Regions from separate parts of the Homo sapiens genome. Here region 2 is linked to region 1. The links come from fine-mapping of genetic effects on gene expression. Tissue or cell type: testis. Region 1 holds a variant in brackets; the other region holds the start of a gene. All regions are shown on one strand. Distances are between the middles of the regions.

Region 1 (5,145 bases):
AGATTTCCTGTAGCCCGTGGCCCCGGCATCCACGTTTCCGTGGAGACTTTTCCTGTAGCCTGTGGCCCCGGCATCCACGTTTCCGTGGAGAGTTTCCTGTAGCACGTGGCTCCGGCATCCACGTTTCCGTGGAGACTTTTCCTGTAGCCCGTGGCCCCGGCATCCATGTTTCCGTGGAGAGTTTTCCTGTAGCACGTGGCTCCGGCATCCACGTTTCCGTGGAGAGTTTTCCTGTAGCCTGTGGCCCCGGCATCCACGTTTCCGTGGAGAGATTTCCTGTAGCCCGTGGCCCCGGCATCCACGTTTCCGTGGAGACTTTTCCTGTAGCCCGTGGCCCCGGCATCCATGTTTCCGTGGAGAGTTTTCCTGTGGCACGTGGCCCCGGCATCCACGTTTCCGTGGAGAGTTTTCCTGTAGCCCATGGCCCCGGCATCCACGTTTCCGTGGAGACTTTTCCTGTAGCCCGTGGCCCCGGCATCCACGTTTCCATGGAGACTTTTCCTGTAGCCTGTGGCCCCGGCATCCATGTTTCCGTGGAGAGTTTTCCTGTAGCACGTGGCTCCGGCATCCACGTTTCCGTGGAGAGTTTTCCTGTAGCCTGTGGCCCCGGCATCCACGTTTCCGTGGAGAGTTTTCCTGTGGCACGTGGCCCCGGCATCCACGTTTCTGTGGAGAGTTTTCCTGTGGCACGTGGCCCCGGCATCCACGTTTCCGTGGAGACTTTTCCTGTAGCCTGTGGCCCCGGCATCCACGTTTCCGTGGAGAGTTTTCCTGTGGCACGTGGCCCCGGCATGTTGTTTGGGTGCATGGGGACTTAATGTGCTGCTAGAGATGCTGATTGAGCAGAGCCTACAGACAGGAGAGCTTTGTCTGGGGTGGAGCCTACTGAGCCCATGGGGCAGGGTTTGGCCATACACAGGCCCCAGTAGGGGACCAAGAGGGCCACAGGAGAAGAACTGGCATACCTTACTGGGCTTCTAGTAGTGATAGCCGTTTGCTGCCAAGACATTTCCTAGGAGAGGGAGGCTATCATGTCAAGGTTGAGCCGGGTCCTCAGGCCCTTGTAAAGGAGGGTCTACGCTTGGGGGTTTGTGGTTACTTGTGTGCTCTGTACCCAGGGGTATGGTGCACAGGTTTCACCGGGTGCCATTCTGCTCTTTTGCCCAGAGAAGCTCAGCGGCTTTGCTGCCTCAGGGAGGCAGGAGTGGCTCTTTGGAGGAGCAGTTGATCCCCGGGATGCTAGTGCTCTGCCTGAGCAGATGTGGGGCCTCAGGGCCTCAGGACTTCAGAGCCCAGGGCTGACTGACCTAGGGACAGGAGTGTAAGGGATGTGGGCAACGAAGAATTCCACAGGGCTGTATTTCCAGACTCCCATGGGTGGGTGTGGGTGGAGAAGCCCCAGTGAGCTGGTTATCTCCCACCAAACAAAACTGGAGGTCCCTTTGCAGAGACTCTTGCAGTTCATGTCCACATGACTTCTCTGAGAAGCAGGAGAGACTCAGCGCAGAACTCAGGGGAGTCGCACTCGGGAGAGGCAGCGTCTCCTCTGGAGCACACAGACCTTATGTCCTTCCCTCCAGCTGTCAGCCAGACATGCCCCAGTTGTCTTGCATATATACATATGTAATGGTAACAAGGAATTCTGCTTGAGCCTTGCCAATCAGCCCAGTGAGCAGGTTTCTGCAGCATCTTGTCTCCTGGGATAGATACTCAGAAAGTGAACCCTGTGCACTTTGGGGCCTTGTCTCTCAGCTTCTGTTGACACATAAGAAAAGAGACACACAGAGGACCCCACGCCCCATCTTCAAAGTGTGAAGCACACTCCCCGGCTGATACGATTCTTGTCGATTCACTTACGGAATCTTCCAATATGCTTTTCCTCCCTATACCCCACATCCCTGTCACAGAGTTGAGAATTGGATTACCTGGTGGGCAGGTGGGCCCCAGTTAGAGGCCGCTCACACCGGCTCAGTGCAGATGACCAGTGGCAGATGGGAACCCAGGAGGCCTAGAGATCTTGGGTGATAGGGAAGCTCCCGCAGCTCCCTCCTCACTAGTCCAGGCACCGGAGCCTGCGGTGGGAGCCCTGTCATCTCAGCGACGGCCTGCGGGTGACTTACAGCTCAATGAGGGGAGGCACAGAGTAGGTGCACACAGTAGGTGCCGAATCTGAGTGGTTTTATTCGTTCCTCTGTAGACCTCGTATTAGGCTGTCTCCTTGACTACCAAATCTGCTTTCCTCTGTGTTTATGCTCTGGAAGGTAATCCGAAGCCCTTTAATGGGATGGAAGCATTTCCAGATAAGAAGAGGGTGCTGTGGCCAGAGGCACAGGGCTGCCTGGGGCCAGGAGTGGCCAGAACCCTAGAGAAGAATTGCATTTGGGGATGCACATCAAAAACACGAGGAAAAGAAAGAAAGTGGGTGGGAATAGCGTGCCTTCGGCAGAATCCAAACTCACTTCCAAGGCAAAGCCAGGGCCCAACACGAGAATATTCATTTCCTGTTTCATTGTTGGTTACTTAATGACCTTCCTTTGAAATGCTGCAGTTATGTAG[A/C]AAGCAGGTTGTCATGGAAACGGGGAGTGACGTGCAGGGAATAGGTACACAATGCGTTTCTTTGTCATGTCCAGCTGATGCGTTCAGCCTCTGCTCAGACATGGGAATTTATGTGAGGAATTAAATATTAACTGGAGGCATTGCCCTGGAGAGAGGCAGAAACACAGGGTGACAAAAGATGCTGGAAACCAGGGCAAAGAGCATGCTGGGGCCCCCGGGATCCTGCGGGAGGCAAAGCTGATTTGAGACCATGGGTGGATCTCACTTTCTTCAATCAATGGGCTCCAGAGAAGTCGTGCAAAACAATCTTCTTTTTCAAATGCATATGTACTGTGCATTCTTTTGAGGGGCAGAAGGATCTGGTTGTAATGCGAATAATTACTCATTAGTCAGCTCATTTTCAAAGTTGGAGGGGTGACATGCCAAGTTTTCTCAAGGTGGCTCTCAGCTGCCTTGTCCCAGCACTCTGCTGGCCGTGGTTGTCAGTGGGAACCAACACCTAGAGCTGGGACAACAGTGCAGGGGACTGCAGGAAGACTCCAGGGAGGCCCCAAGTCAGAGAGAAATTGTCTCTTGTTCCTGAAGCAGCCATGGAGCCATGACCTTGTCTGTTTCTCCGGTGGATTCCAGGAAATAGGCATTGAATATATGATGTTAAAAAAGTGCCTCAAGTTTCTCACTTTCTCCCCTTGAGCCAGCACGGCTGGCACCCACCAAGCTTTCCTTTTCTGACCTTGAACCTTTTTAAACCCTCAGAAAATGAGTTCCGAGGTGAGCTGTTAAATCAGAGGTGGACACACGGAGGCAAGGCCAGCAGCTGCAGGACCTCAAGACACCTGGGCAGACACTGCAAGGTGAGACGTGAGAGGGCAGCCCCTGTCGTAGGGCCCCACCCCATGGCTGCCTGCACAAAGCCTCTCTTCAGCTGCAGGCATGAAGCATGGAGGCGACTTTTGGTCTGATCCTCACCAGAGTCCGGGTTAGGTGAAGGGTAAATGGGGACTAGGATCAGCAATGATCCGGTCACTTTAAAATTAAGGGAAGAAAAATGACTCTGAGTAGATCAAAACTAAAATGTGACCCCAGGCTGGGCCCGGTGGCTCACACCTGTAATCCCAGCACTTTGGGAGGCTGAGGCAGGTGGATCACTTGAGGTCAAGAGTTCAAGACCAGCCTGGCCAACATGGTGAAACCCCGTCTTTACTAAAAACACAAAAATTAGCCGGGCATGGTGGCATGCGCCTGTAATCCCAGCTATTTGGGGGAGGATCCCAGCTAAGGTGGGAGGATCACTTGAGCCTGGGAAGTCAAGGCTGCAGTGAGCTGAGATTGTGCCACTGCACTCCAGCCTGGGTGCAGATCTTATCTCAGAAGTAAAGGGACTAGGAATGGTGGCTTTTATCTCTAATCCCAGCACTTTGGGAGGCTGAGGCAGGTGGATCACTTGAGGTCAAGAGTTCAAGACCAGCCTGGCCAACATGGTGAAACCCCGTCTTTACTAAAAACACAAAAATTAGCCGGGCATGGTGGCATGCGCCTGTAATCCCAGCTACTGGGGAGGCTGAGGCAGGAGAATCACTTGAACCTGGGAGGCAGAGGTTGCAGTGACCCAAGATTGTGCCACTGCACTCCAGCCTGGGTGACAGAGCAAGACTCCATCTCAGAAAACAAGCAAGCAAGCAAACAAAAAAAACCCACCAAAATGAAAATGTGACCCCAGAGTCTCACTTCCTTGCTTTGAGGTGTGACCACGTCTGGGCTCTGTGATAGGCCTGAGCAACTGTTCTCTATTCACCCTGCTTTTACCTGGCCAGGCTGAGAATCCCTACAGGATCTGACAGCAGAGATTGCTGGCAGGAGCTTATGAAGTCTGTTGGCCTTGTTTTATTTCGATCTTCCTAAGGGGAGGCAGATGGTGCAAGCCCTTCTTATACCTTCCCAGGGTATAAGATCTCCCTTCGGGGACACTCCCGAACTGTGACATCACATGTGCTTACAGCCACTGTTCTCCACCACCAACCCTCTAATTCTAGAACTTCCCACCAATACTCTCTGGATGAGGCCAGGTCCCCAGGGTCAGGTGACCCTCACAGCTGGAAGTAGAGGCTGACAATAGGCTTAGGCTGAAGCCCTTCCCAGAGATCCGATTCTGACCTCTCTTTTTTCTTTTTTGCATGTAGATGCTCTCCAGCAAGGATCCAGCTGTGACTCAGGGCATGGCTCAAGGACAGTGATGGCGTAGGGTGTAGGCAAGGAGGGCTATGCAGTTGTAGTGGGAACTTCATTTGGGGGTGCTTGTGTTTTACTCTCAAAACCCAACCTTTTTCTTTTGAATCTGGTGGCGAGAATGTACATTTTAATGGGTCTGTTATAGACAACTTGCTGAGCACCTCCGCTCATATTTTGGCTCCCGCAGGATTATCAGTGCTCTGCTGATCCATGTTGGAGCCTGGGGCACAAGGAAGAGTCAGTAATATGGATCCTGTCTTTATTTAAGGTTTTGGTATCTTGTTTATTAGGGGTTTTTTGCATCATGTTGATGTTTCTAAATATTGAATTAAAATATTATTTATCTTGATCATTGAGTTT
Region 2 (5,145 bases), 25 kb before region 1:
ACTTGAAAGAGTTTTTATGAAGCAAATGAACTGACACTTGGAATGTCTGTGTGCAGATTTGCACAAGTAATTACACTTTATTTGAAATGATCTTACCAGCTAAGCGATCATTAAGCCTGCTCCCCCACTCACACAAAGCGCTTTCTCAGCGAGTGCGGCTGCGGCGTAAGTTTGGTTTTGCAAATCTCCCGTTTCCCTCCCCGTGTGGAGTCTGAGGACCCGCCAGTCAGACAGGAGTTATTTCCTGGTGGATCTTTCCAAACATATTATTAAAAAGTCACATGTGACTTTCCCACAGACTTTTATGAAATAAAACCCAAAGGAACAGCGTGCAACATGCTCAGTTATGGAAGAGAAAATATTTTATGATTTCAAAAAGTCCTGACAAATTTTCACCCTCTCTAAGAAAGGAAGCTTAAGACTATACCTTGCTGTTGTCACTTACAAGCAGGGATCTGTTGGGGTTTGGAATTCTCTGTCTCAGCCCGGAGCCCAGAGTTCAGCGATAGCTGAATACTGGTGCGAGCTCAGAAGCTTCCGTGTGCGGAGAACAAAGACTGAGGCGCTCTGGGGGGAGAGCGCTGTCCGAAGTGCTGATCAGACTTCGGATCCACCCACCGCTCAGGCCGCCTCCCAGGGGCTGAAGGGCGGCAGCCGAACCGGAGAGACGTGCCGGCGGCCGCTCTTCTGTCCTGCTCTTTTCCCTGGACTCCTTTGTCTTGACGGGGTCAGCTAAAGACTTCGAACCTTTACTCATCAAAGCTCATCTTCGGAAACTGCTCATAGCACTTTAACCTCCCGGTGGGAGCTCCCAGGGCGCCCTAGGTCCTGCCAGCAGGCACCGATTTCAAGTTTCCAGGCACATTCTGAATGCTCCTCCTGGCAGCGCCACAGAGGGTCTGGGGGCCCATTCCCGACCCCCGGAGCGCCACACCTCAGGAGGCCTGTGATTGTTCAAAAGGGGAAGTGAGAAATGCCGAAAGACTTACGTTTTCACAAATACAATTTCTATTACCTGAAAAAACTGTTGTGCCCCACGAAGCCCGTGTTGCGCAGGTTCATCTCTCCTGCTGCCACCTCCGCTTCGCTGTGGTTTCTTAGGTGTGACTGTTGCATATCTGAATTAAGTCGCTTTCATGAAACCTTGGGTGTCGTTGGGAAATAAGGCTGATTCAGCAACGGCCCTCCCTTTGATTCTGTATTCATCATGGAACAATGGCCCGCAAGCCTGCCCGGAGCCTGCAGCCTGCCGATAAGAGTTTAATAGAATTTCTGAATGCCGAAGGTTTGGGGTGTAAGACATCCTAGCACTCACAGCATGTCCAGAGGAGACAGAAACGGCTTTTCAGGAGTGCTCTCAGCTGAATGTGTCCTTTTATACTAATGGATATAAGTTTATGACAGAAATTAAAAATGGTAGGCAGTCATTGTGGAAACCTCGAACTGTTCTCATTTGACTAATTAATATTTCATCCTCAGTTTGACCAGTGCAGGCTTGCATTTATGTCCTTGTGCTCAATCTGAACAATTGCTCTGTGTGCATTTTGTGTTTTATTTGTTGAGGATAATGTGTGCGTATAAGAATCTAAGATACTTGCCTTTGGGGTGAAGCTTTTGGTTTGTATGTAACGTGTAAAGCACAAACTGTATGTTAAAAATAAGCCACTAAGATTTTCAAAACATGCTCTCTTAGAGAAAGCTGTGTTCAGTTCTGCCTCAGTCACACTTTTGGTGGCCCGAGCCCTTTAGCGCTAATTAAGTTGGGGTATTGTGCTCTTGCATAATTTACCAAGAAATGATGTTTACTGTCTGTTGAAATCTCTGCACTGAACTTCTGAGATGTGAGTTTTCTGCTTCTCCAGCTGCCCTTGGACGGCGGCATCTTTGCAGGCGTCTCACATTGAGTTTTCACCCTTGTGTTTCACAGTTTCATTTCTAACATCCTGATTATGATAATGGACAATCGTTTGCCTGATTTATCAGTACAAGAAGGAGATTTGGGCCGCAAACAAGAATACTCTGGCTCTTGAGTTCTCTTACTGAAGAAATTCCCACTTTATCCCTGAATGTGGGGGAAAATATCACAAACTGGCAGATGAGAAGGCAGACAGTCAGGCTGCATAGAGAGTGGGTGAGCACTTCTATTGTGTGTGTTATGGATTTTTCTCTTCTTGATTTTCACTGGATAGCTCCTTTCAGGCCGTTTATAAAAGAATCAGGAAAAGAGCAGAAAACTTGGGCAGTGTGCTTCGCTCTGGTTGCAATAAACTTAGTCTTTTTGTGGGGGGGTTCCCATGCCCAGGAATCCCTGAGTTCTCTTTGGGAAGGTTTTTATTATTGTAAAAATTAAAGTGAAAAGGGAAAGTGTGAGAACAGAAAAATGTCTTTTCCTGATCTATTCTTTGTGTGCATGACTCTATTTTTTGGTCTGTGGCTATAGTTACCTTTTATGCCGTTAAAAAATACATATCCATTTAAGTCAGGGGTACTTGAATATGCAGATGAGCCGATATGTAATATTCCTGGTTCATTTGAGTAATAAATTCTGCAGCCCGCTCTTTATGATGGTAGATCATATTCCTCACCACCAATAAATATTGTAAAGTACTTTCGCTGTAGCCATGCTAACCCGGGGCATCTGTCATTCCGGTTGCTGCTATTAGGAATTATTGGACTGAACCACTGGCAGAGAAAGCAGAGGGGGGTGAATGTGGTGGTTGTGATGCTCTCTGCCCTTTTGTGTGTTTTGCTTTTTAAAAAAACTCAATCATGCTGCACATTGAGTATGAATCAGTGTGGACAAACATAGGCACCTTCTGTTGGCCGAGGCTCAGAGCAGGACACAGGACTCCACCGGACTGGGACACCTCTCACCCCCAATTCAGCAGATCCATCTTTCTGATGCTATACTGTAAATTTATTTCACCTCAGAGAGTAAACAGATATATTGGAGCCCCAAGGGTTCATGGGTAGCGTATTTACAAAGGAGCCTCCTCCGCCAGCCCGTGCCACCGCTGCTAATGAGAGCAGTCATTAAGTAAATGAGACGTCGCCTTTAGCTGGCTTAGGAGTTCGCACACTAAGGGGAGAAGATATTTAATTGAAACCCGCACGCAGGCTTCCCCACATGTGACCGCTGTACGGGAGGCAGCTGCCTTCCCTCTCCTCCCCCAGTCCACCCTGCACCCCCCATGTAAATTTCATGATTGCTTTCCGTGATGTCATTTTGAAAGAGGACAGACAATAGCTGTGGGGAAAGGTAAGTCAACGTTACGTTCTTTCTGACAAAGGCAGATACCCAACGCTTGGCTTTTCCTCTTGGACAGAGACAGGGAGAGGGCGCGCGGGCAGAGTTAATTTCTAAGATGAAGGCTCTGTTTGCAGGAAAAGCAGGTCTGAGGATGGCTTTTTGAAACTGCTCTGGAGGACGGGGGCTTTCTTCTCCTCCCTGGCCTGCCGTGTGCTGTTTTTCTCCTGTCTCTCTGTTGTTCATGCTCCTCTGAGATTCCAGGGGACATGTTGTGCGTCTGACAGAGGAGACATTAGGGGAAGGGGAGCGCATATCAAAACCAGAAACTTTATGCGCATTTCTGGAAGAGGAACAACGGATATGTCTGTGGCCGTGGGACCCAGCAGCCCCGTACCTGGGGAGAGCACTGGCCGCTTAAGCAGAAGACCTCTCTGAAGCAGGGTCTCAGAGTCTGGGGTGTGTCATGTGTGACCCCCACCCAAGGTACTGAGGAGAGGTGCTCACGTGAACGTTTTGTCTGCATGTCATGCATTTCTCAACTTAAGGATCAATATCTAGGGTGCATGCGTCTGTGGGATAGATGTGCAGAAGTAAATATCGGCCGCTCCTCTCAGCCCCTTTTTTCGCTACGTGTCCGTGCAGCTGTGGAGTGTGGTTGTTTATGGTGGTAGTGTAACTGGATTTTTGTATTTAAAACTAAAAATCAGGGTTAGCTAAGAAGTTGAACACCCTAATGCCATTGTCTGTAGTTCTGGGGCCGTGGACTTTGGTTCTGTCTATTGAATTCACTTTCTTCTCTATAAACCAGGAAAATAAACAAGTGCTGGTGGCTTTGTGTTGGAGTGGTGGGTTCTCACTGCTCCTCCTGAGTCACCAAGGGCTTTGCTTGTCTCAGCATCACCTTTGAATCAGTGGACACCATTGGCTGGTAAAGTTGGGTGTTTAATTTTGGAAACCAAACATTTGCGGTGGTGCGGGGGGTTCCGTGGCTGCAGGTGGGTTTGGTCCTGGGCATGGACTCTGTCACGATGATGATAATGGCAGCGATGATTATAATTATCCTTTTGGGAGAGGTCGGTGGAGAATTTTGCCCTTGCAGTTTTTTTTTTTCTTTTAAATCACAGAAAACTGAGGACACCTCTAACGCCAGTGGCTGAGTGCACAAAAGGTGGGAGGGATGTGGGGCAGACCTGGGGGGGCCCACTCGGTGCTGAGGGGTATGCTCTGCCTCTGTCTCCTCTGAGGTGCCAGCAGAGCCTGTCCTGGCCTCACTCTGGCCTGGGGAGTGGGGGTGCTGTATCCTCTACAGGGCTGACTGAGGGAGGCTCCCCTCGGCCCCCAGCCTCCCTGCCACCCCGGGCTCCCCTCCCATTGGTCCTTGGCTGTGATTATCGCCTCCTTCCATATGGCCCTGTTAATTAACGGTAAACAAAAGAGTAAGAGAGCAGGGATTGGAGTCCTGTGGTACCAGCCAGGGTGCTGCTATCAGTAGAGGCAGGACCCTGCCCTGTCTCCCTCGGTAGCTGTTCCTTGTGCAGAGGAGGCTGGGTCAGGGCTTAGAGGGCAGTTTGTTTTCAAAGAGAAGGAGGCAGTCTTATGGATTCTTCTGTCCCGTAGAGACTGAGACTCCTACAGGGTCCCCCCGACCCCCTGGGCACCTGGACGTTTGCCGAACTTCCCAGGGGTACTTGCTGATCCAGGAGCTTGAGCAGGAGCCACAGAGAGTTGGACAAAGAGGCCTTTCTGCTCTGGAACAGCCTCGGCTCTGACCTCCTTGGGCCATGAATCCCTGAAGAGGGCCTGGTAGCCCTCTTCAGAGACCCGAGGCAGGGGGGCTGCTTCTGTCCAAAGTGCCACTCGAGGGTTTTTGTGACCCTCAGCCATTGCCCACAGAT

Which allele goes with the higher level. Positions count from the first base shown, and alleles are read on the strand shown. Sizes are in standard deviations (SD) of each study's normalised expression.
For the expression in testis of the gene that starts at base 2,972 in region 2, allele C in region 1 goes with a higher level than allele A (moderate effect, 0.64 SD a copy in GTEx).

The links. PIP is the estimated chance that this variant, and not a neighbour inherited with it, causes the effect.
Region 2: MYT1 starts here. The variant in region 1 is fine-mapped to the expression of MYT1 in testis (GTEx, PIP 0.97).

What each region holds. Positions count from the first base shown.
Region 1 is chr20:64,186,751-64,191,895 of GRCh38, forward strand. MYT1 (myelin transcription factor 1) reads left to right here. Exons shown (of 23, transcript NM_004535.3): 2 at 3,313-3,410. Among named protein-coding and RNA genes, the nearest start is that of MYT1, 25 kb to the left of the region's middle. RefSeq lists enhancers at 1,042-1,979, 1,980-2,917. The variant A/C (reference allele first, on the strand shown) is at 2,557.
Region 2 is chr20:64,161,481-64,166,625 of GRCh38, forward strand. It overlaps MYT1 (myelin transcription factor 1), which reads left to right and starts at 2,972. Exons shown (of 23, transcript NM_004535.3): 1 at 2,972-3,259. RefSeq lists an enhancer at 1-1,330.